Linked DNA regions of Homo sapiens. The protein of the gene in region 1 purifies or fractionates together with the protein of each later gene. This does not show direct contact. Each region holds a gene or a part of one and is shown on either strand. Other genes may lie near its edges.

Region 1 (3,500 bases):
TCAAAGGAAATAACATCTATCTTTTTTTCTTTTTCTATAGAGACAGAATCTCACTACATTGCCCAGGCTGGTCTCAAACTCTTGGCCTCAAGCCATCCTCCCACCTTGGCCTCCCAAAGAGCTGGGATTATAGGCATAAGGCACCCTGCTGGCTGAAATGACATGTATAAAATGAGACTGTAAATAGTAAAAACTAAGAATACCTATGAAAACAAGAATTGTTATGAGTATTCTGAGTGAGGCAAGCATCTGTCACACACTGAGATTCACCTGCCCAAGTGTCCTGGCTCTGTTGGTGGCACTTAGAGACAGCAAGACTTGCTTACCTTAATATTTTCATTGTACGTGTCAGAGTAAGGCACAGCTTGAAATCTAATGTCTTGGTTGCTGATGTTTGTGGTCAAATGATGAACGACTTTCTGCACCTCCTCCACAGCCTGGGAAATCTGCTGGCGCCTCAAGTCCACCTGGGTGTGAGAGGGACCAGCAATGGTGGTTATTTCCTCTGTGGGCCCCAAGATACCAGCATAAGAGAGTGAGGAGACAAGGGTACAGCAAGGGGTGACTGAGGGAGTTCAGCTCAAAAATCCTGCCTTCCCAAGATGCCGGGGAGATGAATTTAGGTCTGACTCCATTGAGAAGACACTTGGTGGTGCCTCAATGTTCTTTTCTGTAACAGATGCATTCATTTGATATTTATCTAGGACCTACTATGTAGCAGGTGCCAGGCTGGGTGCTGGGGACACAACAGTGATTAAGACAACAGTGAACAATGTAGATACTTGCCCTCTAGCTGAAAATATAGGAATAAATGTAGATATAATACATACTATATTATATATAATTGTAATGTATAATATCAATATTATAATATATAGTGTCATATCTGATATTATACACACAGACACACATATAAATGTGTATATATATGTATTCCTGTATATATATATGTGTGTGTGTGTGTGTTTGTGTGTGTGTGTGTGTGTGTGTGTGTGTATAATGTAATATCAAGTATGATAAGTCCCATGAAGAAAAATAAAATATGATAAGGGACTAGAGAATAAAGGGGCAGCTATTTTAGTTAGGGTGGGCAATGGACAAAGAAGACTTCTCTAAAGAGGTGACATTTGAGTGAGGCTGAAGACAGCTTAGGAGAGCAGATTCCATGTTCCTCCTCTGACGTAGGCAATGCTCTAAGGCTAGCAGTGAGGCCATTGTGGTTGGATCTGGCAAAAGGAAAGTGATAGGAGGTGAGTTTGGAAAGGAAAGCAGGGACCAGATCATCACACAGGGTTTTGTGAACCATGGTGAGACTCTACCATGGTATTGTCACGCCTGCTGCCCATGGTGTGAATATTAAACCACTTAACTTGTATCAGCACCCAGCAGCCTGCTTCCCACTGATGTCATCAGTAAATGATGGTTCTCTTTGCCTCCGTACTCACCCCTGCCTTTTGCTTCTAGACCCTTAAGAAAAGGCATGTTTCTGCTGACAGAAAGTTACCACAGTGAGTTATGAAGAATTGGGAAATTCTCATAGAAAACTCAACACTAATCAGATACTTAAAGTTTAGGGAAATAGATGTTTGTGGGAAACACAAAGGAACTTTTAGTAAACTCCAGAAGAGACACAGAAAAATCCAAATAAGATACGGAAGGGTCTGCAAGTTTTTTCTGAAATGGAGGGGGCACTTTGTCATCTTGCTCAGGAGGCACCTACAAGCTGCTGTCATGACAGCAAGACTCTCCTTCAGAGGCTCCTTCAGCCAGGGGCCAGTTTCAAGCAATATCTGATACATCTCAATCTAATGCCCATCTATGAATCTTTATACTCTCTCTGAATTTGGTATAATGGCTGTTTCTACATATTCTAGAGTCATTTTGAGACACCCATAAACTGATCACGACAGCCAGAAAAAAAAAGTCCAAGTCAAAGAGATTCCTGTTTTCCTAAACTAAGTCATCAACTAGGCCAGTCACCTGAGACCTCACTCATACTTCTCATCAACCAGCAAGCCAACTTCATATGTTCATAGTATAAGAATGTGACTGTGCACCTATTGTTAGACACGTTGTATATCACATATAGGGTCAGTTCATCAGTAAGTATTTGTTTAGCATGTCCTCTGTGGTGGGCACTGTTACATGCTGGAACACAGCAATGCACAAGATAGACCCGGCCATGCATTCACAGTAGTGAGGAAGACAAATGTAAGCACAGAATACAATTGTGGGATGCTATTATGGGAAAAATAACAAATGACAAAAATAAAGGTTTTAGAAGCCAAAACTTAAGGGTCCTCTCCAGCATAGGACTTCCCATCTGTGTTGTGATTCAATTCCATTTGAGTAATTTGAGTGGAACATCCATTTTATGCTGTGCTTTGTGCATACATGTTGCCACGAGGTTTATAGATAACTTGACAAAGCAAGACAGATGACCTGGAAATTAAAATCACTGCAATCTAGTGCAAGGTAGAGGTTTGCACAGATGCTATGGATACATAGAAAACGGATACTTCATCCAGTTTGGAGGTTGGGAGGCCTTTCTGGAGGCACAGTGTGTTGGAGTTGTATCTTGAAAGCTTACTAGGCGTTAGCTAGGAAAAAGGGGGCATGAAAGTTGTTCTAGAATGAGAAAATAGCAGGTATTGAGCCAGGCCTGAGGCGCACAAAGAGAGAATTTGTGCTCCTCATGCCTGTGCAATTGTTCCTGTGATATTTTTAGAACACAATTGCCCTAGAAGAGGTGGTGAAGTGGGAGAATAAACCGTGAGAGGTCCTGAAAGTAAAGGAAGAATTTCAAGAACAAAGTCAACAGTAAGTGCTTGAGTGAGTTAAGGCCCCCAAATGTCCATGGAGTCTGACAGCTAGAATAGGATTGCTGCATTGGGGGAACACTGGGCACTAGCATTAATGGTGGGGAAGAGGTGCACATTAAATGTGGATTAAGGGTGAATGGAAGAAAACCAAGTGAAGACAGAGGTAAGCAACTCCTCCAAGAATTTTTTTTTTTTTTTGATGGATTCTCGCTCTGTCGCCAGGCTGGAGTGCAGTGGTGTGACCTTGGCTCACTGCAAACTCTGCCTCCTCGGTTCAAGTGATTGTCCTGCCTCAGCCTCCCGAGTAGCTGGGACTACAGGCACGTGCCACCACACCTGGCTAATTTTTGTATTTTTAGTAGAGACGGGGTTTCACCATGTTAGCTAGGATGGTGTCAATCTCCTGACCTCTTGCTGTGCCCACCTTGGCCTCCCAAAGTGCTGGGATTACAGGTGTGAGCCACCGTGCCTGGCCCCAAGAACTTTTACCATGGGGAAAACCAAAACAACAGGGATGCGAACAGTTTTTTTTTTCCTTGCAAAATGACACACAGGTGTAAACATGTTTAAATGCTGAGAGAAAAGAGTCAGTGGTGAAAGAAGAGGTAGCAGAGAGCAAAACCAGTTTGTAAGGATTTCCCACCCAAAAGGAGTCATGCACATCCAGAGGCCTGAGTG
Region 2 (3,500 bases), on another chromosome or scaffold:
CTTTGAGTGTCTTATTAAATGGAAATGTCATTTTAGGAAAACAGTCCTAAAGTCCTTAACTCAAGTTTCTACCATTTTACTGCTAGGGGAATGAAATGTGCATATCTCATCAGCAAACTTATTACCTTCTGAAAGCCACAACCAAGGGCAGGAAATGCAATCCTAGCATTATGATCATGGAATAAGAAATATGTCTTGAGAACTACAGGTATACAATAAAATTGGGAAGCAGATCTCAGTGCAATTTGGTTTCCCTCGGTATGTAATTTGATCGCACTGGTCTAGAGAAAACATCATTTGAGATTCAAAGGTTAAGGCCAATCTTCAGGAGCGCTTGAAATAAGGCGTTTATAATTCCATCATCTGTAGGGTCAACGCCTCAGGGCTCTCAGGTATAAAAACCTAGTATGATTAATGATAACCAATGGGGAATGATGGTGACAACTCTGACAACTTGGTTGCAACAAGAAAAATTTGTTGAAAATGTTAGCAGCCCCATCCCACTGAAGTGAATCCCCCCAAAAGTAATTTGAATCACTATAATGGAAGGTCGATAAATACATGTACCTGGAGATAACACAACCTGAAAGGGCTGATGTACTTTCCAGGTTAATACATCAACCTCATGATACCTATTATAATAGCAATCTGCCACAGGGGAGCCCGGTCTCCTTTAGCACTTTCAACCTTCAACAAAAAGCTGGATGGAATATTATAAAAAATGAATGCAGTCCTTTTGATTATTCAAAGCTGCATATTCTATACAAACACTGCCACAGACTTAGTTTTTCAAAGTTAGGCTTCCTGTAAAACATTTGGCCTATATGGATATGCACATTAACTATATGTTCAAAGAGCAAGAGTAGACAGCAGCCTGGCAAATTGTCACTGACTCCCACAGAGGCTATTAGAGCAACTCTTCTGAGTGGGTAGAGAATGATAATGTATTTTACAGTGATACAGCACAGCCTTCAAAATGCTTTTGCATACCTTATCTCACTCTGTCAGCATGACACTTCATGAACTGTTATGCTGTCCATTTTACAGGTGGGTAAATTGAGAATCAGAGAGGTGTAATAACTTGTCCTGGATAACACAGCTAGCAAGTGGTAGCGCCAGGACCAGAAGTCAAGTGTGCTAGTTGAAACAGCTTTTATAGGCTCAAAGCTATGATGATATGGTTTATCTTTTCACCAGTCTCACGGGGGCAACTGTGAACTGATATAAACATTATGGAGTATAATAATAGCTTGAGTTTTTATTTGCAAGAATGAAAGGCAGTTTGTGGAAAATGCATGGTGATCTATTTTCTACAAAAGGTATATAAAATAGGTTCTGCAGCTATGGAGAGTGATAATTTAATGTTCTCTGGGTGTTAAGAAAGAAAAGAGCTACTGCACCGATACTTTCCCTCCTTCCTTAGATGTACTCCAGCAGCCTACGCCTTGTTGCAGACCTCACTGTACTATTAGTGGAATTATCTCCAAGGTTTCTGTTATAATTGAAGAAGTGTGTACCCCAAAAAGATATGTTAAAGTCCTAACCCACAGAACCTCAGAATGTGAGCTTATTTGGAAATAGGATCACTGCAGATATAATTAGTTAATAGGTAGAGGAGGCCCGTAATCCAATATGACTGGTGTCTTTATCAGAAGACACTTAGACACATGAGAGAAGAGTTAAAGTGCTGCAGCTGCAGGTCAAGGAATGCCCAGGATGGCTGGCAACCACTGGAAGCTAAGAGGAAGCAAGGAAGAACTTTACCCAGAATGTCAGAGGGAGCATGGCCCTGCCAACCCTGAAGTCAAACCTTGATTTTGGATTTCTGGCCTCCAGAAACATGCAAGAATAAATTTCTGTTATTTTAAGTTACCCAGTTTCTGGTCCTTTGTTGCAGCAACCATAGCGAATGGATACAGTCTCTATTTAGGCAGTGATGGGTAAACCAATACTCTGAGTGGGAAAGTAACTCAGGCAAGGTGAAGGACTGAGTGGGAACATGAATGTTTTTCCATATATAAGGTGGAATATAGTTTTCTATTAACATCCTTACAGTTCCCTGGGATGGGGGAGAGGGAGAAGGGAGAAGGAGAAAGTAGGTCATCAAAGTTTATTTGTTCATATCTCTATAAATATTTGGTTTTCTGTTTCCACAGGGCCCTCTATTCCTACCAAAAGTTTATCTCAGAGTGGGGAGTAAGCAGCCCTAAAAATACATGGGTCTGTTTCACCTTCTTAGTTTTGCTTCCTAGAGAGAGTTTAAATCATGTGTGCAAAAGCATAATAAAACCACTCTTGAACTCTTTGAGAATGTCCATTTTCTCTAGACTAAATTTTAGAAAATACATGCTAAGTGTTGAAGCATGAGTACACAGCTCTTTCCACAGTTGTCTTCACTAATATCATTACACTGTCATTTATTTGGTAATCAGCAGATATTATGCCAGGGCAGAGGAGGACCCCAAACTTGTTCAGTAACCTTTGCTGGGCTTTGCTTAATTCTGTACTCGTGCTGGGGAAGTAGTGGCTGTTGGGGCTGAAATCTATAGTGAAATGGGGAAGTATTACCTCCCCACTGCCCATAGATGTTATAGCTTCCCTTATTACCACTATCTTTGGCTACAGGAGGTGTTGGAAAGGGACGTGTAAGCACAGCCCCTCATGTTTCTCAAGGATAGCAGATGAAGCATTGTTCTGAATAGCCAGATAATAGGGTTCCTGGGCACACAGGAGAGATGCTGACTAAATGTGTTCAGATAAGAAAGCTTTGGGGTATTTATCCCAAAGTCTTCTTGTTTCATCATTCCTTTGCATCCAGAGTTAATAAAATAAACAGCAAACATAAATGCATGTGTGTGGGGGGATAATCAGCTTCTTGTCAAGTTACTTCCTGCAAGAGATTAGCACAAATGGCAGTCAGAAGCCATGAAATTGTCACTTTTTCATGCACAAATATTTCATGAACATCCCCCCCTTCTCTGCTCAACTCTTTGGTAATTCATTGTGATCAATGACTAGTCAGTAATTTTTGAAGCTCCAGAAGTGAACTTGCCGGCATTTATTTTCAAGCCACTATAAATCATTGCTTTAAAAACAGTTGATTTTTTTTGACAGCCTTTTGGTCAGGTGTCATATAATTTTATTTTTCCTTCTCTGGTGCAAAATAATACCTTTTTAAAAACAAATAATTATGGCGAATGCAATACCTCCAGCCTTTCTTCTTGATGATGCTCCCCAGAATCACTTCAGCCCTGGAAGGGGAAACAGATAATGTCTTAGAATGCAGTGTCCTGGAAAAGCAAGAGTCAATCCAGAACACAAGAACCATTCCTTGTTTGAACTCTCAGTGCCTACATATCCCGAAAATAGAAGCCGCTCTCGGCTGGTAGCACAGTTTCCGCTGTTTCTGCTTGTGCCTGCAAAATCCTGCTCCGGAGCATTCCAGAAGCACCTGCCAAATCCTGACACGCTGGCAGGAGACCGCCTGCAGTCCTGATACT

What was found.
Region 2: the proteins of MAB21L3 (region 1) and KCNAB1 purify together in Homo sapiens (co-immunoprecipitation; one large-scale study listed by IntAct). This does not show direct contact.

The regions. Positions count from the first base shown.
Region 1 is NC_000001.11:116,117,899-116,121,398, reverse strand, and holds part of MAB21L3 (protein mab-21-like 3), read right to left. Parts: intron 468-3,500; coding exon 327-467; intron 80-326; exon of another isoform or gene 41-79; intron 1-40.
Region 2 is NC_000003.12:156,459,578-156,463,077, reverse strand, and holds part of KCNAB1 (voltage-gated potassium channel subunit beta-1), read right to left. Parts: intron 3,252-3,500; coding exon 3,207-3,251; intron 1-3,206. UniProt on the Homo sapiens protein: Regulatory subunit of the voltage-gated potassium (Kv) Shaker channels composed of pore-forming and potassium-conducting alpha subunits and of regulatory beta subunits.